2 separate regions of the Homo sapiens genome follow, and region 2 is linked to region 1. Evidence: fine-mapped expression QTL. Tissue or cell type: whole blood. Region 1 holds a variant in brackets; the other region holds the start of a gene. All regions are shown on one strand. Distances are from middle to middle. Region 1 has its middle 31 kb from the start of LIAS. Region 2 holds the start of RPL9 (ribosomal protein L9).

What was found. PIP is the estimated chance that this variant, and not a neighbour inherited with it, causes the effect.
Region 2: RPL9 starts here. The variant in region 1 is fine-mapped to the expression of RPL9 in whole blood (INTERVAL, PIP 0.92).

The regions. Positions count from the first base shown.
Region 1 is chr4:39,481,653-39,498,096 of GRCh38, reverse strand. It overlaps the pseudogene WDR5CP. Among named protein-coding and RNA genes, the nearest start is that of LIAS, 31 kb to the right of the region's middle. The variant C/T (reference allele first, on the strand shown) is at 6,469.
Region 2 is chr4:39,451,881-39,468,324 of GRCh38, reverse strand. It overlaps RPL9 (ribosomal protein L9), which reads left to right and starts at 9,403. Exons shown (of 8, transcript NM_000661.5): 1 at 9,403-9,434; 2 at 9,885-9,931; 3 at 10,016-10,131; 4 at 10,644-10,739; 5 at 11,787-11,919; 6 at 13,381-13,461; 7 at 13,676-13,792; 8 at 14,100-14,201. The coding sequence starts at 9,886. The coding sequence ends at 13,782. It overlaps LIAS (lipoic acid synthetase), which reads right to left and starts at 9,269. Exons shown (of 11, transcript NM_006859.4): 1 at 9,163-9,269; 2 at 7,363-7,535; 3 at 6,036-6,129; 4 at 4,720-4,800; 5 at 3,123-3,279; 6 at 2,983-3,040; 7 at 679-807. The coding sequence starts at 9,207. RefSeq lists enhancers at 8,742-8,791, 9,162-9,456, 9,652-10,402 and a silencer at 9,172-9,221.

The DNA.
Region 1 (16,444 bases):
TAAGTCCAAAGATGTATGAAGATGTATGCTAAAGCAGATAGAATTAGGCACTTGTCCTGTCCAAATGAGGAATTTTTAAATTTTTAAATGGTTTTTTTTTCTATTTTTAGACATCTAATGCTATAGATTCAAACTTTTTCTACTCTTGTCTAGATATGCCAAATGCTGGCAAAAAATTGCTTTTGTTGTTGTTGTTGTTCTTTTTTTTTGAGACAGAGTCTTGTTTTATTGGCCAGGCTGGAGTGCAGTGGCACCATCTCGGCTCACTGCAACCTCTGCCTCCTGGGGTTCAAGCCACTGTGCCCAGCCTAAGAATTGCTATTTGGATGTTGCCGAATTTGTAAAAACACAGCAATAAGCAAAATCCTTTTGAACAAAGAAGTCCTGAGTTCATCTCATTGGTGGACTGAAGCAATTCTGTAGCAAATAAATCCTTTGAAAGAGCTCCAAAAAGAAGAAAAAAAGAAATAGGTACTTGTGCCGGGTGCAGTGGCTCATGCTTGTACTTTGGGAGGCTGAGGTGGGGGATCACCTGAGGTTAGGAGTTCGAGACCAGCCTGGCCAACATGGTGAAACCCCGTCTCTACTAAAAATACAAAAAAACTAGCCAGGCGTAGTGGCACGCGCCTGTAATCCCAGCTACTCAGGAGGCTGAGGCAGGAGAATCACTTGAACCTGGGAGCAGAGGTTGCAGTGAGCCAAGATGGCGCCATTGCACTCCAGCCTGGGCAACAAGAGCGAAACTGTCTCAGAAAAAAAAGAAAAGAAAAGAAAAGAAAGAAATAGGTACTTGTTTTAAATTGCAAGATGTTTCAATGCCTGGAACTGATAAGTAAACAATTATTGTAAGATATAATTACTGGCCGGGTGTGGTGGCTCATGCCTGTAATCCCGGCACTTTGAGAGGTCAAGGTGGGTGGATGCTTGAGCTCAGGAGTTCAAGACCAGCCTGGGCAACATGGCGAAACCTCGTCTCTAAAAAAATACAAAAAATTAGCCATGAGTGGTGGTGCATGCCAGTAGTCCAAGCTAACTGGGAGGCTGAGGTGGGAAGATCACTTGAGCCCAGGATGTCAAGGCTGCAGTGAGCCGAGATTGTACCACTGCACTCTAGTCTGGATGACAGAGTGAGACCCTGTCTCAAAAAAAAAAGAAAAAAGTTACTGGTAAATGGAGGAAAATGGGCAAAAGAGGGCTCATAGAGCCAGATAAACTTGCTGTTTGAAATGGGAGGAAAAACTCAGTAATTAGGCATGTAACTTAACAGCAATTTGAGACTTTCATGTGAAAAGTTGAAAGAAGGTGGTTAGTCTTTTTTTCTCTCCTCAACCAGTTAAAGACAATTGTTGTTTTTTTTAATCATACAAACTTTCAGTTTTTAAAAATATATATATTTAAATTTTTATACCTGATCCCTACCACCAGGAAAAGTTTCAATTTTTTATTAGCTAATATATTTTTGGTAGGGCAGAGGAATATTGGTAAGATTACTAACTGTACTTAAAATTGAAAATAATAGGCCGGGCGCTGTGGCTCACGCCTGTAATCCCAGCACTTTGGGAGGCCGAGGTGGGTGGATCACCTGAGGTCAAGAGTTCGAGACCAGCCTGACCAACATGGAGAAACCTCGTCTCTACTATAAATACAAAATTAGCCGGGTGTAGTGGTGCATGCCTGTAATCCCAGCTACTCAGGGGGCTGAGACAGGAGAATCGCTTGAACCCGGGAGGTGGAGATTACGGTGAGCCGAGATCATGCCATTGCACTCCGACCTGGGCAACAAGAGTGAAACTCCTTCTCAAAAAAAAAAAAAAAAAAAATTGAAAATAATATATGGACATGGTAAAAAGACATTCACATAGATACAAAAGGATAAACAAAATCTCTCTCCTACAATTTTCTCTCCTACAATTCCACTTAAGACTTCTTGGCTAAGCTACCTGAAAGCCTTATTTTTCCCATCTGTAAAACAGATAATCCATCTCCAACTCGAAGAATTGTTATAAAGATTACATGAGATGAATGTTTACACAAAGATCTTCTTGGCACAGTGACTGGCAGGCAATGAGCACTCCTGTTAGCACCATAACAAGCTGGTCCCACTGCACCAGAACCACGTGTAGGCTCTGGAATCACTAGAAGGACAGTAATTAACACTGAACATTTTGGACAGGCACTATGCAAAGTCCTTTAGGTGCATTTTCTCATCTGTTCCTCACATAAGTCTTTATTTCATTTCATTTTTTACTTCCCCATGTTATTCTAGGACTCATTTAAGTCTTTTGAGGTAAGTTCTGATCCTGTGATTCAGACTACAGGCAGAAGGCTCGGAAGATTTAGCAGCTTGCTCAGGGTCACACCTTAATAAGTGGCAGAACCAGAATTCAGGACAGACTATGTGACTTTTCTCTCCAGCTTTTAATATTAGTCATTCTGCTTCTCTGGATACATAAAGGTGCCCAGGTAAAAGTCATTCTTCTCAAATGCAAAGAATTAACCAGGCATCAGGCCAATACTTGTCATGCAGACTTAAGCCAATACTTTGTTATGCAGTACTTGTCACTGGTGCCTTATCTTCCTATTTCTCAAGAAAAAGCTAAAAATCTGGATTTGGTGGTGTGGTGTTTTTTGTTTTTTGAGACGGAATCTCTGTTGCCCAGGCTGGAGTGCAGTGGTGCAATCTTGGCTCACTGCAACCTTCACCTCGCAGGTTCAAGCTATTCTCCTGCTTCAGCCTCCTGAGTAGCTGAGATTACAGGCACCCACCACCATGCCCGACTAATTTTTGTAAAAATCTGGATTTTTATATAAAATCTCTCAATTTATAAGTGTTGGCACGATGTTTAAAAACAAATTTTTACACTACACACACCAAAATATCTGTGAAGGGTAGATCTAGATCAAAGGTTGCTAGTTTTTAAAAAAAGAAAACCCTAAATTCTGACATAATTTTAGATTTACAGAAAAGTTGAAAGAATGGTACAAAAATGCTGTATACCCTTCTTATTCACTAAATATTAATATTATATTTGCTTTGTTTTATCCTTCCTGTATACATCACACATAAAATTTATATTTATATAAATTTTTTTCCTGAATGATTTGAGATTAAGTTGCAAGGCCAGGTGCGGTGGCTCATCCCTGTAATCCCAGCACTTTAGGAGGCTAAGGTCAGGAGTTTGAGACCAACCTGGACAACATGGTAAAACCTCATCTTTACTAAAAATACAAAAAATTAGCCGGGCATGGTTGTGCGCACCTGTAGTCCCAGCTACTTGGGAAACTGAGGCAGGAGAATCATTCAAACCCGGGAGGCAGAGGTTGCAGTGAGCTGAGATTGTGCCACTGCATTCTAGCCTGGGTGACAGAGCAAGACTCTGTCTCAATAAAAAAAAAAAAAAAAAAAAAAAAAGAGAGTAAGTTGGAGACATGATTCCCTTTTCCCCTAAATACTTCAGGGTTATCTCAGTTTCTGTGGGTCAGGAATTCAGGAACAGTTTAGCCAAATGGTTCTGGGTCAAAGTCTGGTTGTAATCAAAATGTCAACCAGGGCTTTGGTCATCAAAAGGCTTGACTGGGGCTGGAAGATTGTCTTCCAAGATGGCTTGCTCATATGACTATCAAGTTAGTGCTGGCGGTTGACAGGAGGCCTCAGTTCTTTGCCAACTGGATCTCCTCATAGCACTGCTTGAATATCCTCATGACACAGCATAGCAAGTTGGCATCTTCAAGAGTGAAAAAACCAATAGAGGACAAGACAGAACCTCCAATGTCTTTTATTATCTAGCCTCAGAAATCATACCCCATCATTTCTATAATATCCTATTGTTTAACCAGATAGCTCTATTCACTGTCTGAAGAGACATGGATATCAGGAGGTGATAATCACTGGGAGCCATCTTGGAGGTTGGCTATTGGAGTTTTATTTCCCAAAAAATAAGGAAATAGGGCAGGTGCAGTGGCTAACACCTGTAATCCCAGCACTTTGGGAAGTCAAGGCAGGAAGATTGCTTAAGCAATCTGGCAAAACCCCATCTCTACCAAAAATACAAAAATTAGCCAGGTGTGGTGGTGCATGCCTGTGGTCCCAACTATTTGGGAGGCTGAGATGGGAGGATTGTTTGAGGTGGAGGTTGCAGTGAGCTGAGATCTCACCACTGTACTCCAGCCTGGGCGACAGAGTGAAACTGTGTCTAAAAAACAAAACAGGCCAGGAGCCGTGGCTCATGCCTGTAATCCCAGCACTTTGGGAGGCCAAGGTGGGTGGATCACCTGAGGTCAGGAGAGTTCGAGATCAGCCTGGCCAACATGGTGAAACCCCATCTCTACTACAAATACAAAAATTAGCTGGGCGTGGTGGCTGGCACCTGTAATCACAGCTACTCAGGAGGCTGAGGCAAGAGAATTGCTTGAACCCGGGGGCTGAGGCTGCAGTGAGCAGAGATTGTGCCACTGCACTCCAGCCTGGGTGACAGAGCGAGACTCTATCTCAAAAACAAAACAAAACAAAACAAACAAACAAAAAGATTGTTACTCCTTTAAACTTTCATCCACTAGTTTTAGCATCTACTAATGATTCCTGTCTGAATCAATTATTATAACAATGGTAGCTTCCAGTTTTTGATCAAGTTTGAATCTTGCTTTTACCACTTAGTAGAAATGGGACCTTGGCCCAGATAAGTCAACTTTCTTAAGTCAATTTCTTCATATATAAAGCAAGGATAATACAGTACACTTCAGAAGGCTGTTTGTGAGGATTACATTAGATAAGAGTGTAAAACACTTGGCACAGGGCGTGGTACACAGGAAACACTCCAGAAATGTTAGGGGGACTTTGTTGGTTGCCCATCCAGAGGATCCATTCCCCTTTCTTCCTTCCTAACAGAGCCCCAGTGTTCAGATGTTCATCCCCACCTGCTTACCTCACCTTCAGATCCAAGGATGGTCCGTCTTACTTTTGTTTAACAAATTTCCCTTGCCAATGATTTTTCTTGCCAATGATTGCTTCAGAAACAACCTTGTGACCAATGCTGGCGATTGAGAATTGAGGGGTAGTTTGTTAGTAAGGCTCCTGGGACACATTCCTGAAACAGCTACAAGGAAAGTTGCCCTCTCTTCTCCTTCTGGATGTTGTGGCTGGATATGATCCCTGGATAACAGGTATTTGGTTGTGACAGCCACAGCCACCATCCTACCAGACTGGGGTGAAGCCAACACCAAAGATGGCAGAGATAATAGAAGGAAAAACCTAGATCCTCGATTACTTTGTTGAGTCCCTGAATCAATGAACCTTGAAGACTACTTCCTGTTTGGTGACATAAATGTCCTCCTTAATGACACGATTGAATAGGACATTTCTTATTTGAAGCTGAAAATACCCTACTTTTAGAGGTATTGTATTATCATCATTATTAAGAAGAACGGCCAGTCACAGTGGCTCACGCCTATAATCCCAGCACTTTGGGAGGCCGAGGCAGGGGGATCACCTGAGGTCGGGAGTTCGAGAACAGCCTGGCCTACATGGTGAAATCCCATCTCTACTAAAAATACAAAAATTATCTGGGCATAGTAGTGGGCACCTGTAATCCCAGCTACTTGGGAGGCTGAGGCAGGAAAATCACTTGAACTCGGGAGGCAGAGGTTGCAGTGAGCCGATATTGCGCCATTGCACTCCAGCCTGGGCAGCAAGTGCGAAACTCAATCTTGAAACAAAAGCAAAAACAAAAATTAGCTGGGCATGGTGGCGGGCGCCTGTAATCCCAGCTACTTGGGAGGCTGAGGAGGGAGAATCACTTGAACCCAGGACGCAGAGGCTGCAGTGAGCCAAGATCGCACCCTTGCACTCCAGCCTGGGCAACAGAGTGAGACTGTCTCAGAAAAAAAAAAAAAAGAAGAAGAAGAAAAGAGAAGAACAAGCACCAATGGCTTTAGACAGAATAATGAAATAGCATCTCAAGGAAAGAATCAGAAGGTTGCACTGGGTGCGGTGGTCACACCTGTAATCTCAGTAGTATGGAAGTCTGAGGCTGGAGGATCACTAGATGTCAGGAGTTCCAGACCAGCCTGGCCAATATGGTGAAACCCTGTCTCTATTAAAAAAATACAAAAATTGGCCAGGTGCGGTAGCTCACGCCTGTAATCCCAGCACTTTGGGAGGCCAAGATGGGAGGATCACCTGAGGTCAGGAGTTTGAGACCAGCTGGGCCAACAGGGTAAAAACCTGTCTCTACTAAATATACAAAAATTAGCTGGGCATGGTGGCAGGTGCTTGTAATCCCAGATACTCAGGAGGCTGAGGCAGGAGAATGGCTTGAACCAGGGAGGCGGAGGTTGAAGTGAGATTGCGCCATTGCACTCCAGCCTGGGCAACAAAGCAAGACTCCATTTCAAAAAAAAAAAAAAAATTAGCTGGGGGTGGTGGCAGGCACTTGCAATCCCAGTTACTCAGGGAGGCTGAGGCAGGAGAAT[C/T]GTTTGAACTGGGAGGCAGAGGTTGCAGTGAGCTGAGATCACGCCACTGCACTCCAGCCTGGGCAACAGAGCAAGACTCTATCTCAAAAAATAAATAAATAAGTAAGTAATCAGAAAGTTGCTAAAGGAAAATTGCTTGAACAGCAGCTGAAATGGAAGTGAACACATGGCCTCCAACCTCCTGGGGACACCCAGAAAGGGTCTGAGGTTCTACAGGAGGTATGGGATAGGGGACATGGAGGAGGGTTCAGTAAGACAACTCAGCTGGTGAAGGTAAGGTCTAATTGTAATGTGTAAAGTAAGCTCATTTGTACTCACCTTTAAGTAACTCTACTTAGAATATGTCAAATTAGGGCCGGGCGCAGTGGCTCATGCCTGTAATCCCAGCACTTTGGGAGGCTGAGATGGGTGGATGACCTGAGGTCAGGAGTTCGAGACCATCCTGGCCTACATGGTGAAACCATGTCTCTATTAAAAATACAAAAATTAGCCAGGCGTGGTGGCATGTGCCTGTAATCCCAGCTTCTTGGGAGGCTGAGGCAAGAGAATCGCTTGAACCCGGGAGGTGGAGGTTACAGTGAGCCAAGATCGTGCCACTGCACTCCAGCCTGGACAAGAGCAAAACTCCATCTCAAAAAAGAATAATATTTCAAATTAGGTGTCTGTGCACCTACTATAATGCAGATACTGTGAGATGCTAACAGAGGGCACAGATGAATGAGAGAGATCTTAAGAGAGGCAGGTACACAAATAACTGGCCCAACCAAGAAAATAGCCATAAGTGATTTTAAAAAATGCTGTGTGGACACAGAGGTAAAGATTACTCCAGCTGAGGAAAACAGGAAGCCTTCCCGGTGGCATTTGAGGTGGATCTTAATAAAGAGACATGATCTTAGTAGGGGAAGGGTGGGTTTGAATTGGCAGGTCCATGGCAGAAGCAATGGGAAGAAAAAGATGGAAGCAGGAAGATTCAGGCTGCTTTTAGGGAAAGCAAGCTGTCTTTTTTTCTGGAGTTGAAGGGAGTAGGAGGAGGAATAGCTGGAGAAGACTGGAAGGTTAGACCAAGGGCAAATTGTGGAAGGCCTTGAACTCTACACTGAGCTTGGGCTTCACTCACTTGTCAAAATAGAGACACTGATGGTTACATAACATTGGGAATGTACTTAATGCCACTGAATCGTACACTTCAACATGGTTAAAGTGGGCTGGGCATGGTGGTTCATGACTATAATTCTAGCACTACTAGGTCCTGACTTCTTACATAGTGTTATCGGGACCTTGTCTTGGCCTGGGCTGTGTCTGTTACTGCTTTTTGGGATGAGACAGCCTAATACAGGAAAACTTGCTTTTCTCTTTTAGTTTTTATTTCTTCTTTCTCTAATTTCTGCCTCATTCCCCCCTTTGATGCTTTTTATAAATGAAGTTTAATAGAAAGCATCACTATTATTTAATTCTTCATGGCAGCATAATTTTCTTCAGTTGGCAATGGCTGGTACTTAGAGCCATTAGTCGAGTGGTGGTTGTTTTGTCTACTAAGTCGATTGAATGCTTCTGACAAGGAGGGGTAAGAGGCAAGGGAGTATTAAGCAACCACTTAACGTAGCCAGCACCACTTCTGTTCATGTTTTAAATCCACCAAAAGACGAAAACCAACCTCTGAAGAGGGAGTCTGGGGACTCTTTTGGTTTTCAGGTTTGGGTTTCAGGTATGAGCTTGGGATTATAGCACATAGAAGGCCGGCCATCTCTTGGGTCACAGACTGAATAGGTTGTCTGGTTGTGCATGCAAGTCCCCAGATGGCTTCCTGTTCACTCATAATACGTATAGTACAATAAAGTCTTATCTATTGTGTTTCTTAACCATGTGGTATGCATGCAGTGAGGGATTCCTCTATGGGTCTTTCTCTTTTTTCTGAGACGGAGTCTCACTGTCTCGCCCAGGCTGGAGTGCAGTGGCGCGATCTCGGCTCACTGCAAGCTCCACCTCCCAGGTTCACACCATTCTCCTGTCTCAGCCTCCAGAGTAGCTGGGATTACAGGCGCCCGCCACCACACCCGGCTAATTGTTTGTATTTTTAGTAGAGATGGGGTTTCACCATGTTAGCTAGGATGGTCTCGATCTCCTGACGTCTTGATCCGCCCGCCTCAGCCTCCCAAAGTGCTGGGATTACAGGCATGAGCCACCGCGCCCGGCCAGCAAAACAATTAATATTATACGGAAAGTTATTGGGCTTAAGATCTCTGGCTACATTTACTTCCCTGATGATGATTCTTCAAGCTTCAGCCGGTGCATAGACTAGTCAGCTTCTGGAGTGACTAGAGCAGGTCTGCTGTCTCTACTGGCAGCTTAGTTTTGTCGCAGGCTGAGTCGGGTCGGGTGGTCTGGGTCCTGGTGGCTGATCTACCGGTCTTGGGCCGCCAGTTTCAGCAGACTGTGGTGGATCTTAGGCACGATTCTCGCAACTTTAACAGCAGTGGGAGTGGACAAGATTACAGTATGGGGCCTATCTCTTATGGGTCCCAAAGTGGTTGGATTCCAATTTTTTAACCTAAAGAAAGTCCCCAGGTTTAAATCGGTGTGCTGGGTCTGTTAGACTTAACAGGTATTCTTTCATGTACCCAGCTATGAACTGTTTACATGGCTATCCCTAAGCCTGCATTTGCTTTCTCAAAGTTAGTTTTCCTAGCTCACGGAGATCACCTCTAACTTGACCTATGATTAGGGATGGCCGGCTAAACAAAATCTCACAGGGCGAATACTCAGTTTGTTTAGTGGGGGTGCGCCTGACTCAGAGGAGGACCATGGGCAAGACTTGATCTAATCTCAGATAAGTCTCCTGGCAATATTTCTTCAGTAGCTGCTTGAGTGTCCATCCAGTTCATGCACTCCACTTTTCCTGAGCTTTGTGACTGGTAGGCCTTGTGTAATTTCCATTTTATTTTTAACAGCCGTGTTAGATCTTGAACTATTTCAGCTACAAATGCCAGTCCATTGTCTGACACTAGAGTTAGAAGCAGTCTAAATCTGGGAATAATGTCTCTTATCGGTACTTTAGTTACTTCCTGCGCCTCTTCTGTCCGGGTGGGGAAAGCCTCAACCTACCCTGAGAAGGTGCAGATGAACACCAACATGTACTGATAGCCTCCTGCTTGGGGCAGCTCGGTAAAGTCCAGAAGCAAGTTTTCACAAGGTGTGGCCTCTATTTCTTGAATTCCTGGGGGCCGGGTAGGCCCCTGCAGAGGGTTGTTCTGAACACAAGTTAGACATTGTTCACAAACGGCTCGGGCAATGGCAGTGAGTCGTGGCACACAGAAATGGAGTCTAAGTAGTGTCTCTAATGCCATTTTTAAAAAATATGAGTTATTTGATGGAATTGTTTTTACAAACTTAGGGGCTACCATTTCAGGAATGGCTAGCCTCCCATCTGAGAATTTCCACCATCCTCCTTCAATGTAATTTCTGGCTTCTTGGGCAAATTAGGCCCGTTTCATTTGGAGAATAATTTGGGACCTCTGGCAGGGGAGGCTCTGGGAGGAGAGGCAAAGCTAGGATCTCCTCTTTACAGTGCGGGGTAGTCATTGCTGACCGTTTTGCCTCCTTGTCTGCTTTTCTGTTTCCTTTGGCCTCTAGTGTTCCTGCCTTTTGGTGCCCTTTGCAATGCATAACGGCTACTTTCTTTGGAGCAGCCCATATAGCATTTAAGAGCTGTAGAATTTCTTCTTTGTACTTTCTTTGCCCCCTACAGTTAAAAGTCTTCTTTCTTTATATATAGCTCCATGAACATGTAATGTAGCAAAGGCATACTTATAATCCATGTAGACATTGACTATTTTTTTTTTTTTTAGACGGGGCTCGCTGTGTCACCCAGGCTGGAGTGCAGTGGCGCCATCTCGGCTCACTGCAACCTCCGCCTCCCAGGTTCACACCATTCTCCTGCCTCAGCCTCCCGAGTAGCTGGGACTACAGGCGCCCGCCACAACACCCAGCTAAGTTTTTGTATTTTTAGTAGAGACGGGGTTTCACTGTGTTAGCCAGGATGGTCTCGATCTCCTGACCTCGTGATCCGCCCGCCTCAGCCTCCCAAAGTGCTGGGATTACAGGCGTGAGCCACCGTGACTGGCCAGACATTGACTTTTTTTGTCTTTTGCTAGCAAAAGGGCTCTTGTCAGGGCTATTAGTTCTGCCTTTTGGGCTGATGTTCCGGTGGGCAGAGACTGTACCTCTGCTGCTGAGTTTAATGTTACTACTGCATACCCGGCTTGTCAGATCCCTTCCAGTACAAAACTGCTTCTATCTGTAAAGTATTCAACATCTGGGGCCCTGAGGGGTTGGTCTGTAAAATCTCTCTGGCTTGAGAACACCTTATCTACTATATCTCCACAGCAATGAAGGGGGCCTCCTGGTTCTGACCCTACTACTACCAGTGCCTGATTTACAGCCAGCCCTGGTGAGTTATCTTCAGCCTATACTCCAGGAATTTTAGTAAGTAACCGATACATTTCATTTACTCCTGGTTCTGGAGTCTTTTTTGCATATAGTCTCCAGTCCTCAGTCTGTGGGACAGTAAGGGTTAACATCATGGCCTTCAGCTCAGTTAGGCTCAAAGTCATACTTCCTTGTGGCCCAAAAGCAATCTGTACTTGGAGTTTTTGGAGTAGGTCTCTTCCCAGCAAAGGAACTGGACAATTTGGGAGGTATAGGAATTCATGTTGGACCTCTCGTCCTCCTATAACACACCTCCTTGACTGACAGGCCTTTTCTCTGAGACTCTAGTGGCTCCTACAATAGTTGTATAGTTCGTGATTAGTGGCCCTATAGGTCAGGTCACTACTGAGTGTTCAGCCCCAGTGTCTACCATAAAGTCCATTAGCTGGCCCGCAACTTCTAATGTGACTATTGGTTCCTGGGGGCCTAAAGAGAAGGAGCCCAGTCTGTCCCAGTCTTCATATCCTTCAGCCCCTGCCAGCCTGATTAGATCAGTATCTAGTTCCCCCAGGGTGCGGCAGCCCTTGGCAGATGGTCTCTTCATACCATGGCCCTGACTACTCTCCTCATTACCTTCTGGACACTCATCCTTCCAGTGTCCCTTCTTTTTGCATCATGTACATTGATCTCTCTCTAGCCTCGGCCGGCTCTCAGATCTCTGCCTAACTTGACCTCTTCCACATCCATGTCCACGTCCACATCCTCTTAGAATACTAGTTTCCCTTTCTACGAGGGCTGCCGCTAACAGATCGGCCCTTTTCTCAAGCCTCTGTTCTGCTTCCTTCTTTGCCTCTTGGTCACGGTTAACATACACCTCAGTGGCCACCTCTATAAGCTGGGTGGCATTCGTGCCTGTAAACCCTTCTAATTTCTGCAGCTTCTGTTTGATGTCACCCTGGGCTTGTCCTACAAATGCTGTGTTCACCATGTGCTGATTTTCAGCTGCTTCAGGGTCAAACGGAGTACAAAGCCGGAATGCCTCATACAGTCTTTCATAAAACTGGCTAGGGCTTTCATCTGCTCCCTGGAGCATCTCTGAGATTTTCCGTATGTTGATTGCCTTTTTCCCACCATTTCTCAGCCTTTGCAGGATTGCCTCTTGGTACCTCTGCAGGTGCTGAAACTGGGTTACATCATTTGGGTCCTCGTGTGGGTCTGCTTCTGGGAGGTGGCCTTGAGCATATGCCTGAGCGTTCATTGTGCCTGCTGGTACATTTGCTTCAAGCCAGTGGAGGGCTGCCTGAGTTATCCTCCGGTGCTCCTCAGTATTAAACAGCATCAGGAGGAGCTGTTTGACATCTGGCCAAGTTGGATTGTGTGTTAGGAAGATGGACTGCACCAGATCTATAAAGGCCTGAGGTTTTTCTGTGCAGGAAGGGGTATGGTGCTTCCAGTTTAGGAGATCAGTGGTTGAAAAAGGCTGGTAAATGAAGGTTCATTCCCTTCCCTGGATTTGACCTTGTTCATTATAATAGAGGGGGGTCCTCTTTTTTACCTGAGAGGCATTTGCATAACCTGAGTGCGGCCATGAGTAGATATAGGGGAATTGGTCCAGGTGTCCCGGCTGTCCTCCGACCCCAGTTACTACCCTAAATACATGACCAATTGCTTCCCTGCCACTCTTGCGTCCTGGGTTGGTTAGGGTGTAAGTTTCCCCAACATTTACGAGCCATTCTCTCATCCTGTGTCGGACTACTAGTTGCACCCTGGAAGGTGATCAGGCTCCCCTTCCCTCCTTATGGGACAGGTCCTGCCTTGGGCCCCAATACCTTACCGTGGTCCTGAAGTGCACTGACCCTGGAATCGTCCTATACCCCTTAGGTTCCGTTGCACTGTCAGCGAAGGGACACTGGGTCGCAGGAGAGCTGATCTCCCCTCCGGGTTGAAGTTCTCCTGATGGCACACCTGGGGTCACAGGTATCCCGCCAGTCTGGGGCTCCAGCCCCACAGGCAAAGGAGACAGCAAACCTGTCATCTCCTCTCCCGGCTGGCTCACCAAAATGTTGTAGGAATCAGAGGACCAAAGAGACCAAATGGGTGTTACAGGAGGATTTTTATTAAGGTGTATGCTGGCTCAGTGGATTCATATCCAAAAAATTGAGGCCAGAACAAAGACAGGGCTCAATTTTTATAAGAAAGCTTACAGAAGCAGAATAAAGACAGTTAATGAAACAGTGACAGGTCTCGTAATCTCTAGCATAGCTTGTGACCTTGCAGTTGCATTGAAGGAGAAACAGGAACTTCTAAAACTTGCAAAATATTTATGGGGAGGTGGTAAAGGGCTAAAAGAGGAATTTTGTTTTTCTTATCCTTATGTTGGGGAGTGCTGGGAGAGCCTCCAGAGCACATTCCTTTTGGGTTCTGACTTCTTAGATAGTGTTATCAGGACCTTGCCTGCACCTGGGCTCTGTCTGTTACTGCTTTTTGGGATGAGACAACCTAATACAGGAAAACGTGTCTTTCTCTTTTAGTTTTTATTTCTTCTTTCTCTAATTTCTGCCTCACTATGGGAGGTCGAGAAGGGAGGATCACTTGAGCCCAGGAGTTCAAGACCAGTCTGGGCAACATAGTGAGATCTCTACAAATAATAGAAAAAAAATTAGTGAGGAGTGGTAGCATGTGTCTGTAGTCCCAGCTACTCAGGAGGCTGAGGTGGGAGGATCACTTGAGCTTGGGAGGTCAAGGTTGCAATGAGCCGATTTGTGCCACTGCACTCCAGCCTGGGTGATGCAGCAAGATCCTGTCTCAAAAAAAAGGTTAAAATGGTAAAAGGAAACATTGAGGTGTTTTTTATTTTTGTAGTCACTTTTTTTTAACTTAAAAATTTTATTTATTTATTGTGTGTGTGTGTGTGTGTGTGTGTGTGTGTGTGTTTTTGACAGAGCTTCACACTCCTGTTGCCCAGGCTGGAGTGCAATGGTGCAATCTCGGCTCACTACAACCCCCGCCTCCTGGTTCCAGCAATTCTCCTGCCTCAGCTTCCCGAGTAACTGTGATTACAGGTGCCCGCCACCGTGCTTGGCTAATTTTTGTATTTTTAGTAGAGATGGGATTTCACCATGTTGGCCAGGCTGGTCTCAAAGTCCTAACCTCAGGTGATACACCTGCCTCAGCCTCCCAAAGTGCTGGGATTACAGGCATGAGCTACCACACTCAGCCGATTTTTTGTGCTTTTTTGAGATAGAGTCTCACTTGCCCAGGCTGGAGTGCAGTGGCACAATTGCAGCTATCACATTATTTAAAAAAAACAACAAAAAAAGGCCAGGTGCAGTAGCTCATGCCTATAATCTGAGCAGTTTGGGAGGCCACAGTGGGTGAATTGCTTGAGCTCAGGAGTTTGAGACCCACCTGGGCAACATGGCAAGACCCCATCTCTGCCAAAATGACAAAAAAAAAAAAATAGGCAGGTGTGGTGGTGGGGACCTGTAGTCCCAGCTATTTGGGGGGCTGCGGTGGGAGGATCACTTGAGCCAGGGAGGTTGAGGCTGCAGTGAGCCAAGATTGTGCCACTGCACTCCAGCCTGGGCAACAGAGTGAGATCCCATCTCAAAAAAAAAAAAAAAAAAAAGGCCAGGCACTGTGGCTCATGCCTGTAATCTCAGAATGTTGGGAGGCCAAGATGGGCAGATCATGAGGTCAGGAGATCAAGACCATCCTGGCTAACACAGTGAAACCCCATCTCTACTAAAAACACAAAAAAATAAGCCAGGAATGGTGGCGGGCACCTGTAGTCCCAGCTACTTGGGAGGCTGAGGCAGGAGAATGGTGTGAACCCAGGAGGCGGAGCTTGCAGTGAGCTGAGATCGCACCACTGCCCTCTAGCCTGGGTGACAGAGCGAGATTCTAGCTCAAAAAAAAAAAAAAGGCATGAACTTTGTTAGTCACTTTTTAGAGACTTATCCTAGCTTTCCATAGCATGTGGTCCCCAACTAGCTGTTATCATCACCACATACTGGGAGTGTGTTCAAGTTTTAGACCAAAAACTCAGGAAGAAATATATCATTAGTGTTTGCCTTGCAAAATAATATGTATAAGCAGAGGATAAGTTGGATACAGTGACCGCTTGCTCCCTTCTTCCCTTCCTTTTTCTTGAATACAGACATGTAAGAGACTACTCACTAGATAATGCTAGTAACATGGGAGATTATTTTAGGTGCATATATATCTTTCTTAATTTTAATAGGCATTTATTTTACGGGCATTAGAATAAACATAATTTATAAATTGCATTAGCATATAAACTTGGATGCTCCAAGAGGGACCCAATATTATAGTGTGTTAAGCAGAATAGTAATGTATTTCTCTCTCACACAAAAGTCCAGGTAGGTGGTCGAGGGCTGGAAAAGGCCCAAGCCTTCCTCATCTGGTCGCTCTGCTGTCCTTGACACAAGTCTCCCATCTCATGTCCAGGATGGCTGCTCCCACTCTAAGCATCATGTTTTCATTCTAGCCAGCAAGGAAAAAGGAAAAGAGGAAGGGAAAGGTACCACCTGCTCTTTAAAAGCAGATTCAAAAATAGCAGCCCCAGCTGGGCGCAGTGGCTCGCGCCTGTAATCTCAGCACTTTGGGAGGCCAAAGCTGGCGGATCACTTCAGGTCAGGAGTTTGAGACCAGCCTGGCCTACATGGTGAAACCCCATCTCTACTAAAAATATAAAAAATTAGCTGGGAGTGTTGGCGCGTGCCTGTAATACCAGCACTTTGAGTCGCCGAGATGAGTGAATCACTTGAGTCCTGGAGTTCCAGACCAGCCTGGGCAACATGGTGAAACTCTGTCTCTACTAAAAACACAAAAATTAGCTGGGCATGGTGGTGCGTGCCTGTAATCCCAGCTATTCAGGAGGCAGAGGCACGAGAATCACTTGAGGTGGAGGTTGCAGTGAGCCCACATCGCATGACTGCACTCCAGCCTGGGCGACAGAGCGAGACTCTGTCTCAAAAACAAAACAAAACAAAACAAAACAAAAACATCTCCTGCTATTCCTCTTTCAAGTTTCTGTATTAAATTTAACTGGAAAGTATCCAGACATTCCAAGATGAGGTGTTTTACCATTTTTAAAAATTATTTACTATTTTTTTCTTTTTAAGCTATGCTATTAACTGAAATTTACTATTATTTAGCTATATTAGAATTGTTCTCAATACTGTGCAACCAAAACAAATAAGTAGACTCTTGAGGCTGAAGACAGCAACTGTTATCCATAAATCCCAATTTTGCATATGTATCAAAATTGCTTCATTTTACTTATTCCCTATTTTTATTTACAGAGTAAATGTTACAAATCTGAAACTTTAACATACACTGCTAATAAAATGCCATTTTAATTATTTTACATTGAAGTTCCATGAGATTTTTATTATATTTATTATTTATTTTTAAAATTGAACTTCACCCTTTTGTAACAAAAAATTAAAAATTTTTGTTGACTCTGTTTGAACACAACAGACTAGGAACTCTTCCCTAGACAGTGTTAGAGAATTGGCAAGAAATG
Region 2 (16,444 bases), 30 kb after region 1:
TATTTTTAGTAGAGACGGGGTTTCTCCATGTTGGTCAGGCTGGTCTCGAACTCCCAACCTCAGGTAATCTGCCTGCCTCTGCCTCCCAAAGTGCTGAGATTACAGGCGTGAGCCACAGCATCCAGCCAAATATATTTTTGAAGTCTTTTCTTTAGAATTACAACCAAAGCAATTGCTCTAGTGTAATTTTTTCCCTCCTTTGAAAACTTTATTTGTGGGGAGGGGGAAACAAACAACTTATTGAAATTTGCAGTATGATATTATTTTAAAACAAAAGAAAAAAGATGTTAATTATTTGTGGGTATTAAAACACACACAGTAACTTAGTAATATGAGTTACTAACATCTTAATGTTTGTAATATAAAAATTAAGTATATTATAAATATAAAAATACAAATATGTAGTATAAATATAGTGTTTATAATATAAACACTAAGGTGTTAGTAACTGATATTGCTGGGTGGAAATACTATTATGGGTGATATTTATGCTGATTTTGTTGGTGATATTTTCTGATTTTTATGTAAGAGACATAGATTGAGTTTGCCTAAAAAACAAAAAAGAATAGAGTTTACTTTGTAAAAGTCAATGGCAAAGTTCAGCCCTGGAAAAGGCAAGAATATATGGCATATTTTGACCCGCCTAACTTCCCAACATTACTTTGTACACGTATTCACCTCTGTAATTCCGGGACTGTTTCTACATTATGTGCATACACATCTAATCCTGACAGAGCAACTTTTTCTATTGCTTTGAGATCACCTCGAAAATCAGGAGTAAGACACTCCACAAGGATTTTTGGATTCCTAAGGGGAAAAGAGAGAATTATCAAACAGAGAGAAAGAACTGACATACCTGTTCCTCAAAATAGAAATTATCAGTAATCGTTCAGTATGCTTCAACACAGTAACCTTTAGAACTTTGTCAAGAAAAGTATGAACATACAGATGTTCATACATGAACCATTATTAAAAAAAAAAAAGCAGACCGTTAAATACTATGTACACAGTGGTTAAAACACACCTGTAGGCAAACTGAATAAAATTTCAAATTATATATAGTAGACTTTTAAACCTAATTTAAGTAGGTTTTAGAAAAAGTAAATAATTGCAAGAAACTAAAATATGAAATATTAAAACATTAAATATAAAACTTTACTCATTGGAAAGTAAATTGAAGTATTTCTTATATAAATGTGAGTATTATTTGATTGCTTTAATTTTGATTTCTTTAAAAAGTCATCAAATCATGCTCTCCTCCCTTCCTCTAGGCAAATATTTCACAAGTGCTACGGGTTTTAAAAACTATTTTCTGGGTTGCTGAGTCATGAGCTTTGTTAAACGAAGTACGAGCTAAACATTAATCTTCCTATTTATATTGTGGCTATATCTATTCATCCAAGTATTATAATGTGAACTGGGTCACAGAGCTGTTCCCTTTGACACCAGCAAAAACGACTGAAACAGCTGACACATTTTTTCACAAACCCACTGGCAAAGTGTCTGGAGTTGTTCCCTGAAAGAACAGATGTAGAAAAGACCACATGTACACCCTTATCATGAATATAAGAGATATTCAAAGAACATATCCTATAATTTTTTTTTTTTAAATAAAAACAGGGTCTTGCTCTGTTGCCCAGTGCATCATAGCTCACTGTAACTTTAAACTCCTGGGCTCACGCAATCCTTCTGCCTCAGCCTCCCAAGCAGGTAGGACTATGGGCACATGCTACCACATCCAGCTATTTTTTTTTTTTAATTTATTTTTTGTAGAGACAGCATCTCCCTATGTTGCCCAGGCTGGTCTTGAACGCCTGTCCTCAAGCAATCTTCCTGCTTTGGCCTCCCAAAGTGCTAGAACTACAGGCGTGAACCACTGTGCTTGGTTCTATTGCTTTTTTAAACTGAAAGCTGAGACCCACTGAAGCTTGTAAAATAAACCTAGTGGATTGCAAACAGATTTTTCAAAAATGAACTATAGTAAATAGAAAATAGAAAATACTAGGGAATCATTTAAAAAATTTACTAAGTGCGCTTAGGTGCCAAACTAGTACTGAGCTGTAGAAAATTAGAATAATCTCAGCACTTTGGGAGGGCGAGGCAGGAGTATTGGTTGAGGTCAGGAGTTTGAGACCAGCCTGGGGAACATAGCAAGATTCCGTCTCTAAAAAAAAATGTAAAAACATTAGCCAAGCGTGGTAGTGTACCTGTAGTCCCAGCTACTTGGGAGGCTGAGGCAGAAGGATTGCTTGAGCCCAGAAGTTTGAGGCTGCAGTGAGCTATGATCATCAGGCCGCTGCACTCCAGCCTAGATGACAAAGCAAGACTGTCTCTTAAAAGAAAAAACAAAACAAACCCAAAAAAACAGGCCGGGCGTGATGGCTCAGGCCTGTAATCCCGCACTTTGGTAGGCTCAGGTGGGTGGATCAATTGAGGTCAGGAGTTTGAGACCATCCTGGCCAACATGGTCAAACCCTATCTCTACTAAAAGTACAAAAATTAGCTGAGCTTGGTGGCGTGGGCCTCTAATCCCAGCTACTCGGGAGGCTGAGGCAGGATAAATGCTTGAACTGGGAGGCAGAGGTTGCAGTGAGATGGTGCCATGCACTCTAGCCTGGGCAAAAGAGCGAGACTCCATCTCAAAAAAAAAAAAAAATCATTACTAAGAAGACCAGGTTTATACTTTTTAAAGAAAATTATTCAAAGTTTAGACTAATGCTCTAATATGAGGGAGGGATTCTATGGGCTAAAGGTCTATGGGTAAGTTCATGTCACTGAGCCCCTAAAATTCTCTGCAAATATGTATCTGTACATACAAATATGCTTTTTCCAAAGAAATGTGTACATAATTTCCAGTGAATTATCAGAAAACTATGAAACTCCTCAAAAAGTGAATAATCCCTGTTTCAAGGTAATGAACTTAAACTTAACTCATATGGGTCCAAAAAGGTCCTTAAATTACACAAATGCAAAAATAAGTACCTTTCCTTTAAATATGATACGGTCTTTGCAATGTGTTCAGCTCCCCCATCAGGCATATCTAGAAACAAAAGAATCCACTGCTCAGGATGATGTCATCATTTAGAGCCAGTTTCTGGTAGAGGCCATGATGACACACTAACCATCTCGATCCACAGATGTCAGGACAACATAATCCAGACCCCATTCTGCAATTGCCTTTGCAGTATTGTAGGGCTCACTGGCATCCAGTGGAGGAGGATTTCTTGCAGTCTTAACAGAACAAAATCTGCAACCTCTTGTACATGTGTCACCCATCAACTAGAATAGAAATGTTACAATTTAAATGAAATAGACAGATGACCCTTAAGGACATAATGTTGAGAGAATAAAGCAAGTTGCAAAGAATGCATACAGTTTGGTTCTGTTTATAAGAAATTTGAAACATTCAAAACTAAATGATAGTCAAGGAACATAAATATATGTGATAAAACTAAAAAGGGAAATAATAAACTCAGCAATAAGAATAGTGTTCAGGGGAAAGGGGATGGGATCAGGAAAGGACGCAAAATTTAAATTTAAAAACAAAGCAGGGTGCAGTGGCTTGCTCCTGTAATCCCAGCTACTCTGGAAGCTGAGGTGAGAGGATTGTTAAGAGTCTGAGACCAGCATGGGCAACACGGTGAGACCCTGTCTCTAAAAATTAGCTAGTGTAGTGGCATGTACCTGTAGCCTCAGGTATTTAGGGAGGCTGAGATAGGAGGATTACTTGAGCCTAGGAGTTCGAGGCTGCAGTGAGCTATGACTGTGCCACTGCACTCCAGCCTGGGTGACAGAGTGAGACCCCCATTTCTTAAAACAAAATAGAAACACAACTGAAAAATGGGATTCTAATATACAGTTTAGGGGGTACAGAGGGGTATTCAAAGATAATGCTAACGTTTTAATCTCAAACTGGAGGTATGAGGGTGTCTGTTGTGTTATTCTTTATAACTTACACAGTTTATAAGATACTTTTTTTTTTTTTTTTTGAAACAGGGTCTTGCTCTGTAGTCTAGGCTGGGACGCAGTGGCATGATCATGTCTTACTGCAGCCTCAACCTGTTGGGCTCAAGTGATCCTCCCACCTCAGCCTCCTCAGAAGTTGGGTATACAGGCAAGTGCCACCATGCCCAGCTAATTTTTAAAAACTTTTTTTTTGTATGGACAAGGTTTTACCATGTTGCCCAGCTGGTCTTGAACTCCTGGGTTCAAATGATCTGCCTGCCTTGGCCTCCCAAAATGCTGAGCTTACAGGCATGAGCCACTGCACCCGGCCTATGAAGATACTTTTATATCTATTCAATAATAAAAAAAGATGATTTTAAAAGACATAAAATATATGACAGATCAATGTACAGGTCTCTATGGATGTAAAAACAGAAAGCACAGCTCCTTCTTGTTGAATATGTTAAACAGAAAACACATAAAAAGCTAAGCAATCATGAATAATGTTTCCAAACATTGATAGGAGAGGTATCTCAAGGCAGCACGTGATTAACTATCACATAAATGAAAGAACCAATAATAGATTTATTCAGAGAAGGGTGAGATTACAACAGGTTGGATTATTCCATCAGGTTTTTTCTTAATATTTTTCATAAATGCAAATGTAATGAAAAATCTGACCAGAGATTCATAATGCACATTTTTAGGAGGAAGACACAAAATAGTCCCTTTCAGTTTCTAGACTAAAGCCATAGAGGTTGAGGCTGGCCCTACCATGATCGTGGCTGTGGCGGTGGCATATTCTCCACCTCCCCAACACTCTCCAATATTGGGACATCGAGCTTCCTCACATACCTGTATGCAAAAGGAAATGGAACACCATTAGGTTGACAATATCCACCAACTAAACAGTTGGTGACTGTGATTAGACATTTTAAACTTCTCATTGTTTACAACATATTTTTGAAGACATTCACTATTCAAAAATGCTGTTAAGACCAAGTGCGCTGGCTCATGCCTGTAATTCCAGCACTTTGGGAAGCTGAGGCAGGAGGATTGCTTGAGCCCAGGAGTCTGGAACCAGTCTGGGCAACATAGTGAAATCCTGCCTCTACAAAAAATCAAAGTTAGTCAGGCGTGGTAATGTGCACCTATACTCCCAGCTACTCAGAAGGCTGAGGAGAGAGGATCACTTGAGCCTGGGAGGTCAAGGCAATTGTACCACAGCACTCCAGCATAGACAACAGAGCAATGCCCTGTCTTCAAAAAAAAAAAAAAAAGGCTGTTAAACTGCCCAACTCTATATTAAGATTAGAGTGTAGTGAGCATGTCCTATAGAGGTGTACTCCCTTACATAATTATGTAAGAATGGACAGACTTGAATTTTTATTTTTTAAGATGGAGTCTCACTGTCGTCCAGGCTGGAGTGCAGTGGTGCCATCTCAGCTCACTGCAATCTCCACCTCCCAAGCTCAAGTGATTCTCCAGCCTCAGACTTCCAAGTAGCTGGGACTACAGGCTCACGCCACCACGCCCAGCTAATTTTTTTTGTATTTTATTAGAGACGGGGTTTCACCATGTTGGCCAGGCTGGTCTTGAACTCCTGACCTCAGGTGATCCTCCCACCTCGGCCTTCCGAAGTACTGGAATTATAGGTGTGAGCCACCGCACCTGGCCAAAATCCAATTTTTAAATTAAAAACTTTACGAATGTATATACTTCATATGTGCAAATAAAAAAGTCTGAAAGATTATATACTGAAGAGTTAAAGGTAAAGGAGTATGGTTTATATATGGCATTGCGTATGTGACATACCTTCATATTTAATTTTATATTCTTTCCAACAAATCATATATCTAATTTGCAATATAAAACAAACAAAGCCTTGTTTCCAAACTCGTAGGGCAAAAAATCTCTTTGTTTGCCGGAAAAATGATTCTAAATATATTTCCATTCCTGGTAGTAATGTATCACTTAACATATTTACTTTCTTTGCTATTATTTATATATTTATTAATAATTTTTAAGTTATATAAACGTAGAAACATGGCTTTTGGTGAAGAGGGATAGTTTACACTTTGACAACTTACTGTATGGAGATTTAAATTCCGCAAAGTATTTTTCAGTTTATTGTAATTTTTCCCCATGGGAATCTCTGTCTTTAGCCATGGAGGTAGTCTTAACCTAAGGAAAGCCAAACATAACTATCTATTAACAAATATGCTGCCAAATAATTACACAGCTTTGAAGTTAATTTCTTCTATTACAATTCCTAGTTAATAATTTTTTCTATAACCTTAGAATAACTCTTATAATTTCTGTCATAGGAGTAAGAACACAGAATCAAATTTAGCCTTGCTCAAACCACTTTAGAAAACACCAATAATGGCCGGATGTGGTGGCTCATGCCTGTAATCCCAGCACTTTGGGAGGCCGAGGTGGGCGGATCACAAGGTCAGGAGTTCGAGACTAGTTTGGCCAATATGGTGAAGCCCTGTCTCTACTAAAAATACAAAAATTAGCCGGGCGTGGTGGCAGGCGCCTGTAGTCCCAGCTACTTGGGAGGCTTAGGCAGAAGAATCCCTTGAACCCAGGAGGCGGAGCTTGCAGTGAGCCAAGATTGTGCCACTGCACTCCAACCTGGGTGACAGAGCAAGACTGTCTCAAGAACAAACAAACAAAAAGAAAACACCAATAATGGAGTGTAACAGGGCGCTATACTCACGTCTACCTTTTTTGCAAAGGCAGAGTTACACTATTCTAATAAGAGAATGAGCAAGTTTTCAAATATCTCATCCCTCATGAATGATACTGCCAAAAAGTACTCTACTTGTTTAGACTGAGGAAAGATCACAACTGTGCACTGTCTGCTCTACATTCTAGATTTTATAGTGGTTACTCAATGGAAAAAAGATCTAAAATTTGGACTGGAGACTGTGTATCCTTGGTTCTCCATGACTTCCATCCACTTGTGATATAGAAGGAGCAGGATTAAGTTATCTTTCAACTCAATCTACCTTCTACATAAAATTCCATCATTCTTTTAAATTAAGGCAAGGTATCCATAGGTCACATGTAAATTGACTAGGAGAAGCACAAGTTAGATCATCAACAGCTACTAACCCAGATCTAACAGACTAGTAGCAAAGCAGTAATCTTTACTCTGAAGAAGTTGGATGCTGGGTAGAAAATGGGGAGATGGCAGTGTAACATAGTAAGGGCAAGAGAAAAGAGAAAGATTCCAAAAATTTCATCTGCTTACTTGTTCTATCTAGTTCTGTTATCACATCTTTCTAATGATTTTTAGCTAAATTTAACAAGTCTGATATTAAAAACAGATTCTAGGGCTTGGTTATATCTGAAAATAATGCACAATAAAGGAACGGGACGTTAAAATTATCTCAAATTTTCAATTACCTTTCTCCTTTCTGGCGTTTTAGGTTTCCTTTATATTCATCCCAGGTGCTCCTGTCTGCAAGATCACCAGATACAAAATCTTGAAGGTCTGGTCCATTCTGTAGGAGTTCCTTTTTTTTATCTGGCAAGGAGCTTAACGGTCTGACTGGGCTGCAAAAATATCTCCCAAATACCTAAAGAAAGAGTTAATTATGACGTTTATTTAGTGGAGTCCGTAATAATTTAGTTTTAACCCATCATAACACCTAAACGGAAGGGTAAAGCCAAAAAAGTGATTCAGAAATTATGTCAAACTAGGAGCTCTAGTATTCTAGGGCATTAGAATATAAAAGATGACTGAAGGAACCAAACCTAAAAGAGAGTAAGAGTTGACTGTTTACTACTGAGTTTAGAATAGATTTGGAAATCTGTTTTTTTTTTTTTTTTTTTGAGACGGAGTCTTGCTCTGTTGCCCAGGCTGGAGTGCAGTGGCGCAATCTTGGCTCACCGCAAGCTCCGCCTCCCGGGTTCACGCCATTCTCCTGCCTCAGCCTCCTGAGTAGCTGGGACTACAGGCGCCCGCCACCACGCCCGGCTAATTTTTTTGTATTTTTAGTAGAGACAGGGTTTCACCATGTTAGCCAGGATGGTCTCGATCTCCTGACCTCAGGTGATCCACCTGCCTCGGCCTCCCAAAGTGCTGGGATTACAGGCGTAAGCCACCGCACCCGGCCCGAAAATCTCTGGAACTAACATATATCACACTTTCATGTACTCCACCTACCAGGAACTAGATGTTTGTCTTTCAACAAGATTGAACTGCAATAACTGAAGAAGGTGCCACAGTTTAAAACTGTTCTGGTCCTGACTTGAATCAGGGGCGTTTAAAGTGAAGTGTGCAATAAATCTCTCGAGCTTTGAATAATTGTTGAAACGTAGGTTAATAATGCCCAATTAGTTTCAGACAACTGGAAGGTTAAAACCAAGCCTAACGTTTTTACTTTCTTTTTCTTTTTTTTTTTTTGAGATGGAGTCTCGCTCTGTCGCCCAGGTTGGAGTGCAGTTGCGCGATCTCGGCTCACTGCAACCTCCGCCTCGCGGGTTCAAGCGATTCTCCTGCCTCAGCCTGGCGAGTAGCTGGGACTACAGGCGCACGCCACCACGCTCAGCTAATTTTTGTATTTTTAATAGAGGCGGGGTTTCACCATGTTGGCCAGGATGAACGTTTTTACTTTCTAGGTTACATTGTTTCTGTGTTTGAACGTGGCAGTCAAGAACATAAGAAATCATGGTATTCGGCTTTTACATCTGAACACAAACGTGTATGAGATAGCCAAAACACTACAAAATCCACGAGTCTGCACATGTATCTCAAAAGAACCTTCGACAACTCAAAGAGTGCCTGTTAGGGTGTTGCACGATTGCTACTGCACTTCTCAATGTCTGCCGCTGAAGCCTAGCGGACAGGTTTGTGTTCTCTGCGGCTAGAGTGGTGTCTCACACACAGTAAGAGTCCAAGACAGAATAGCTATGTGGGGTGCTCACTGCAGTGCTCCATAAATATAGGGTACAAACCACTCTAAGCAGAAAATAAGTCCTCGGTGCTGGCCCAGAGAGACTTGCAAACAAACTGATGCCAGAGACTCTATATCATGGGGCTGGCGGGATAATTACATGAGATTACACGAAAAACGTTTAAAACTGCCGTTGGCTAGTAGTAAATGTTCAGTAAATGCACTGGCCTTTATTATTGGGCATGGGCGCTCTGAAGGGATAGGATCCCCCCACCCCACGCCCAAACCCGTTCGCCCCGCCGCTCACCCGGGGCCCCAGGGTGCGGGCTGCATCCCCGCAGCGTAGAGACATTTCCTCTTTAGGACTAGCGCAGTGCAGGGGTTGAGGGATCGCTAACTCCCGGGAAAGGACAGGTCGAAATTACGTCGCTCCATTTATGACAAGCAGCCAAGCTGCTCCACGATTGGCTGCTTTAGCCTTACGTGCGTCGCGCACTCATGACGCAATACGCAGGCCCCTTACGCGATACAAGTACGTAATGACGACAGACGTTCTTTCTTTGCTGCGTCTACTGCGAGGTAAGGATGTTTCTGTGCTCGTGGGGGTACTGGGAATCTGAAACCATCTGCTCTGGGAAAGGCTGCGGCGCGGCTCCCACTCTCGGAACCTTGTCCTGTTTGTCCCCCAGCTCGGCAAGCGCCATATGAGCCTGGCGGCGCCAGATGCGAATCCTGTTGTGGGCTTTTTGGCCTATTCCCGCCCCTCAGTCTTGCCGGGATGGCACCGCCCGCATAGGACTTCCAGGGTTGGGCTGAGTGGGAGTTCGACTGCTGGGCCTCGTAATTCTCGCTTTGGGGCTGCTCCTTCCAGGCTGGGACACACTGGGGCCCGCTGTCGGTCTCCCGTCCTCCGACATCTTGTCTGGAACTTCCGCCTGGCAGTCTCCAGTAGGAGTGGAGCTCTGTGCGGCGTAGTTTGGTGGAAAAACGGGCCTTGCGTCGGCCTCACCCCCAGTGTTTGTGTTTCAGAATGAAGACTATTCTCAGCAATCAGACTGTCGACATTCCAGAAAATGGTATGAGACTTGATGTCTTTTACTTACATCTTTACTGCACGTTCCAAGCGTTGTGTGGCCTGACGAGTGTGTTCTCTCTTCTAGTCGACATTACTCTGAAGGGACGCACAGTTATCGTGAAGGGCCCCAGAGGAACCCTGCGGAGGGACTTCAATCACATCAATGTAGAACTCAGCCTTCTTGGAAAGAAAAAAAAGAGGGTGAGGGTTTTTCTTCTGATAATTCAGTTGCTCGTTGGAAGGTGGTTTATAACAGCATCACATTTGGTTGCTTTAACAATTTTCGAATTAAGGTTCAGTGCTTCAGCTTTAAATGTTGCTGTCCAGAATACCAGCCTGTTCAGTGAAATTGAAAAACCAGATTCTGAACACAGCCAATTATATAAAGCTCAAATGTAATAGTGGTCATCAGTGACACGTCTTAATGGTGTTAGAAGTTTGGTTTATTTTCCTAGTGATTGCTTTGTAAAAATCACAGGAACCGGCAGTAGGTCATTTAAACCTGATGATTTAATTTTCCAGAAGGGAAGTTTGTTGCAACTTCTACAAAGCTTAACTGTTGGGAGGTTTTATAGGTGGTTGGATTTTTCCAGTTGAAAACCATGTGCTTTGATAAGGGTTAATTCTAGAATCTTAAAGTAATTCGGTAAGTGGTCTGTTGTCTTTTAAGCCTGCATATTTCTGGAAAGAATACATTTTTTGTTCTGTTACAGCTCCGGGTTGACAAATGGTGGGGTAACAGAAAGGAACTGGCTACCGTTCGGACTATTTGTAGTCATGTACAGAACATGATCAAGGGTGTTACACTGGTAAGCAGATGTATCAGACTTCCTTGTTTTGGAAAGGGAGGTTTCTCAAACCTGTGCTTTATACAGCGTAAGTGTCTCTTTCAGAGAATGGGTCATGTATTTTATTTGGTGTAATACGCAAGAACTTGGCAAAAATAGGCATCTGTGGGTCTTTAAGCGATAGAGCTGAGAGCAAAGACCAGATGGGTACAACATGTTTGTTTTTTTCTGTTGTTGGGTTTTTTTTTTTTTTAATCAAGGCTGGGGTCTCGCTATTTTGTCCAGGCTGAGCTCAAGTGATCCTCCCACCTTGGCCTCCCATAGTACTGGGATTGCAGGCATGAGCCACCATGCATGGCTAGATGGGTACAACTTTTAAAAAGTAGGCTAATGATGAATTTTCATACCTTCCGAATTCTTTAAGATAGGAAATCTACAGTTGCAGTACTAGTTGGTAGTCACATCTCACCATCAGGACCCCTTGTTGGGATAGAAAAAGATGTAGTTTCTGAGTTTTCTGTCTGCTGCCATAATGTATGTCATTATTCTTTCCAACCCACCGTCTCTCCCCTCAAGATAAAAAGTTCATGCTGAAATGGTTTTCTTTGCATTATACCTTCTAGAATGCACCTGATAATGGCACCCTGTACATCTATTATAAATCTGTTAAGATTCCCCCATCTACCCTTGCTCTTAGCCTTAAGTTCCTTGAAGGCAGGGGGCCTGCCTTTGGCTTGGTGGTCTCAATTCCTGCCATGTGCTGTACCTTAGTAACTCAGTAAATGTTAGTCTAATGTCTAAGATCAGGGCTTTGGGGTTCTCATTAAAAGAAGGCAGCATTGTTCATTGAGGGCATAAGAGCTAGTGAAATAAAGCCTCCGCAAGGAGCTTTACAGTCCACTGAATAGACAGAACAATGTTTATAAGGCTTGGTTCAGGTGACAGTTATTAGAAAATCTTGGCAGTGAGTGTTACGTTTTAAAATAAGTATAAGCATCTTAGAAAATTTTAAAACTATTAAAAATATTCCTCAGCATTGCTAATAGCTTGCTTATTTATTTAACATAGGGCTTCCGTTACAAGATGAGGTCTGTGTATGCTCACTTCCCCATCAACGTTGTTATCCAGGAGAATGGGTCTCTTGTTGAAATCCGAAATTTCTTGGGTGAAAAATATATCCGCAGGGTTCGGATGAGACCAGGTATGTGCATACCCTCAGACAGAATTAAGAAATTTTTCCTTCATATTTTTTTCCTCCTTTTCCACTCCCAACTTCCATACTTTAGTTGGCTGTTGTTTTGTGTTTGTGCTGAGTAAAACCAGATTTGTTTTAGAATTATCTCTTGATTACACTTAAACTGTTGGTGCTACTTAAGGGTTTATATCATTATGTCGATTACAATTTCAGAAAGTTGATACATTGGAGTAGCTTGCAGTGGTGGTTGTATTTAACTTGGCAAATGAAATCTTTTAAAAAGACTTTAAATTTACAAAAGGTGTATATAATGGTGTGTATTTATGGAGCACAATGTGATGTTTCAACACATGCATATTCTGTGGAATGACTAAATCAGGCTAATTAACACATCCATCACTCCATTTATTTCTTCGTGGTAAGAACCTTTAAAATCTAAAGAGAAAACTACATGAGTAGTGGTTAATAGCCTAGCGTAAATTTCAGCTCTCACTGTCCACCTTGGGCATGTCATCTCTCTGCAGCTTAAAATTGCAAACATCTTTGATTAAATGAGTTAAAGTTGAAAAACAACAATGCATGCGTAATACATAGTAAACACAGTAGCTTTAAAAAAAATTTAAAGCTTAGTGCTTTTTATTTGAGGCAGGGTCTTGCTCTGTTGCCCAGGCTGGAGTACGGTGGCGTGATCTCAGCTCATTGCATCCTCCACCTTCGTGCTCAGGTGTTTCTCCCACCTCAGCCTCCCCACTAGCTGGCACTGCAGGTGCCTGCCACCACATCCAGCTGATTTTTGATTTTTTGTAGAGACTGTTTCGCCACGTTGCCCAGGCTGATTTCAAGGAATGCTATGGTGCCTGGCCCCAGCTAATTTTTAAGTTTTTTGTAGAGGCAGGGTCTTGCTATGTTGTCCAGGCTGGTCTTGAACTTGCAGGCTCAAGCAGTTCTTCCCCCTTGGCCTCTTAAAACATACCTGGCTCGGCCTCTTGATGCATTTTGATTCCATTGGGGTGGGGAGGGGTGGGAAGAAGGGAGATTCTTAGTATCAAAATAATGGCTGTCCAGAAATACTCTGATACTAGCTATGGTCAGCAACATTTAATGAAAACCCTTATGTTAAAAATAAACCCCTGCCTCCTGGCTTCAAGCGATTCTCCTGCCTCAGCCTCCTGAGTAGCTGGGAGTATAGGCACGTACCACCACACCCAGCTAATTTTTTGTATTTTTACTAGAGATGGGTTTCACAGTGTTAGCCAGGATGGTTTCGATCTCCTGACCTCATGATCCGCCCGCCTCGGCCTCCCAAAGTGCTGAGATTACAGGCGTGAGCCACTGTGCCCGGCCTCAAAATCTTAAGAAAAGGTTCTTTTGGTGCATGGAGTTTTACATGGAATAAATTAGTGCCTCTGCAATTTAAATATTTTTTACACAGATTTGATGCTGTGCAAATGCCCTCTCCCCTTTTAGGTGTTGCTTGTTCAGTATCTCAAGCCCAGAAAGATGAATTAATCCTTGAAGGAAATGACATTGAGCTTGTTTCAAATTCAGGTTTGTATGTTTACTATGTCTAACTATGCCTACAAGATTTTGTCTAAATCTTGTTTAAAATACAGTATTTTGCTAATTTTTATTTGATTAGCTTTTTAAATTGTGAAAATAAAAAGGTCACATTCTGAAATTTTAAGTACAGCACATAATGAAATACTTTCTTTTTAAGATGGGTTAGGCTGATGTATTAATTGCTTTATCTTCACTCCTATAGCGGCTTTGATTCAGCAAGCCACAACAGTTAAAAACAAGGATATCAGGAAATTTTTGGATGGTATCTATGTCTCTGAAAAAGGAACTGTTCAGCAGGCTGATGAATAAGATCTAAGAGGTAAGTTCTTACAGTGTCTTAAGTTTTATTACTGCTCTAGTTGAATGAAGCTCTTAATTTACTAAAAGACTTAAACTGAATTTGTAGTAATAGAAAATGGAGAGTTAAGCATTCTGGAACACAGTAAATTTGACAGAATAAAAGATGGAATTGGCATGCATTTTACTACGTATAGTTTACTATGAATCAGTAAGTCATAGTCTTGAGGTATGTTTTAGATTATTTAGAATAGTACAGAAAAAAGATTAGTACTTTCCTGGGCAAGTGTATTGATGGGGATTTACAGATTTTTTTTCTTTTTTTACAGTTACCTGGCTACAGAAAGAAGATGCCAGATGACACTTAAGACCTACTTGTGATATTTAAATGATGCAATAAAAGACCTATTGATTTGGACCTTCTTCTTAAACCGGTTATCCTTTTTAGCTAGTTTTTTTCCCTCGTGGAACAAGGAGCTTTAATCTGGTTCTTGAAGGAATAGCAAGGATATATTTTAGGCAAGAGGAATATTGTACCAGTGACAGGCAAACATGAGGCCATTCATCATTGCATATAGAACTTTAGGAATACCCTGAAAGTGTCTAAATTTGCTGAGGCATGAATTTGAATATTTGGTAAGGCAAATGTTGTCTTAGTCACTGGTGGAGAAACAGCTGAGGAGTAGAACAGAGTGATACAGCATCAGTTAGAATTAGAAGGTGTAGTTGGTTTGGTTCATGGTCTCAATAATCTTGTCCTTTACCTCAGCCATTTACTTCCATACCCTAGAACTTGTTTTTAAAAATTGATAACCCTTCCATAATCTCTTAATTCCATGTGTTATACTTTAAATATGGTACAAGGCCACCATAACTAGACTTAGGTCAACATGGTGACCCCCAAACCTTTGTGAATTCTACATCTCATTTGATGGAAACTGCAATTTCTAAGGCAAAATTTAACATTCATCCTTGATCAAATGCGTCAGGAAAACGTACTAAGTACCTTCATTGTAAGGTATGGTCAGGTACTTTATCAGAAAAAGTAAATATAAGGACAGAGGTCACGATCAGTTGGCATATATGTTATCTTGGATCTTACAATGTCTTACTCAGTTGCCCAGGCTGGAATACAGTGCCATAGTCATAGCTCTGTAACTTCAACCTACTGGACTCAAGCAATAATCCTACCTGCTTCAGCCTCCTTAGTAGCAAGGACTACAGGCAGGCACCGTCACATCTTTTTTTTTTTTTTTTTAAAGTATGGATGGGGTCTCATGTTTCCCAGGCTGGTCTTGAACTCCTGGCCTTAAGTGTTCCTCTTTGGCCTCCCAGAGGGCTGGAACTACAGGCATGGGTCACCATGCCCTATACGTCTTAGATCTGGATTCAAGTACACTAATTGAACATACATTAAGGAGTCTTGTTGTTTGATGACTATTTGGTTAGGTTTTTAAGAAATTTGGAGGAAATCATAAATCTCGGATTTGCTCAGAAATAACGGATGGGGTTGTAGGCGATGAATGGGATCAACGTGAAGTAAGATCACATCCTCGAAAGGTTGGGAAATATGGGTCCATTAGATACAAATTTTTTACAATGTAGAAAATGAAACAAAGACCTGCGAAGTTCACCTGGATTATTGTGACAGTCAACTGGTCATCTTCCTCTCCTGTCTATTTTCAGCATCAGCCAGGGTACTGATTTTGAAATGGATTATAGCACTGTTTCAAATCCTGCAACAGGTTTTTTTTCCCTTTTTTCTTTTTAAAATAGCCTCCCCATTGTACCTGCAGCCGTTTTTAACTCAATTTTTCTGACTTCTGCGCTATAGCTGAATTGACCTGGCTAATCCTCTATACCAAGCACTCTGTCATTAAGCATTTAAGTTGTCGTTTTCCCTTTGGAATGCTCTCAGCTGAGCTGTGTGGCTAATTTCACTTACCTTCAGGTCTATTCAGTGAATCCTGCCTTGACCACCGTATTAAAAATAGTAGACCGGCTCCTTAAGCTTGTCCTACTGTCTCGTTACCCTTCTCCACTTGTTTTTGTCAATAGCATTTGTAATTTTAATATTTACAATTGGTTGTGTATTGATGATGTGTTTTTTTCTGCTAGGATGTAACCTTCACAAGGAGGTAATTTTGTACTCTGGTGTATTCCAGCTACCAGAACAATGGCATGTAGCTGTTTCCTGGATTGCCAAGGAACTCAGTAATAGCAGTGGGACTGGAAGAGAGAGATTTTGGGAAGGTATTGACAGGATTTCAAAACAGTATGAGGCTTGTGGGAGAAATTTCCAAGTGGCAATATTCTAGTGGGGTGGAGATGCTCATGAGAGGATCAGCTTATGGGGAGTAGCTGCTGTGGGAGTAAATGAGATTTCTTTGAGCATGAAATGGACTGGCATGCTGGGTCTGACCTTCATAAGGTAACTTAAGAGACTGTAGCTAAACAGTGATTTTTTTTTTTTAATAACTTGGGTATAACAAATGAGCCTAGTTCTCCAGGGAAAACTTAATTATTGTCTTCTGTGTCTACTATGGATAAGCACTTGTGCACTATTTTTGCAATTTTTAGATGTAGGTGTCCACATATTTTTGAGACGGGGTCTCTGTCACCCAGGTTGGAGTGCAGTGGCGTGATCTTGGTTCACTGCAACCTCTGTCTCCCA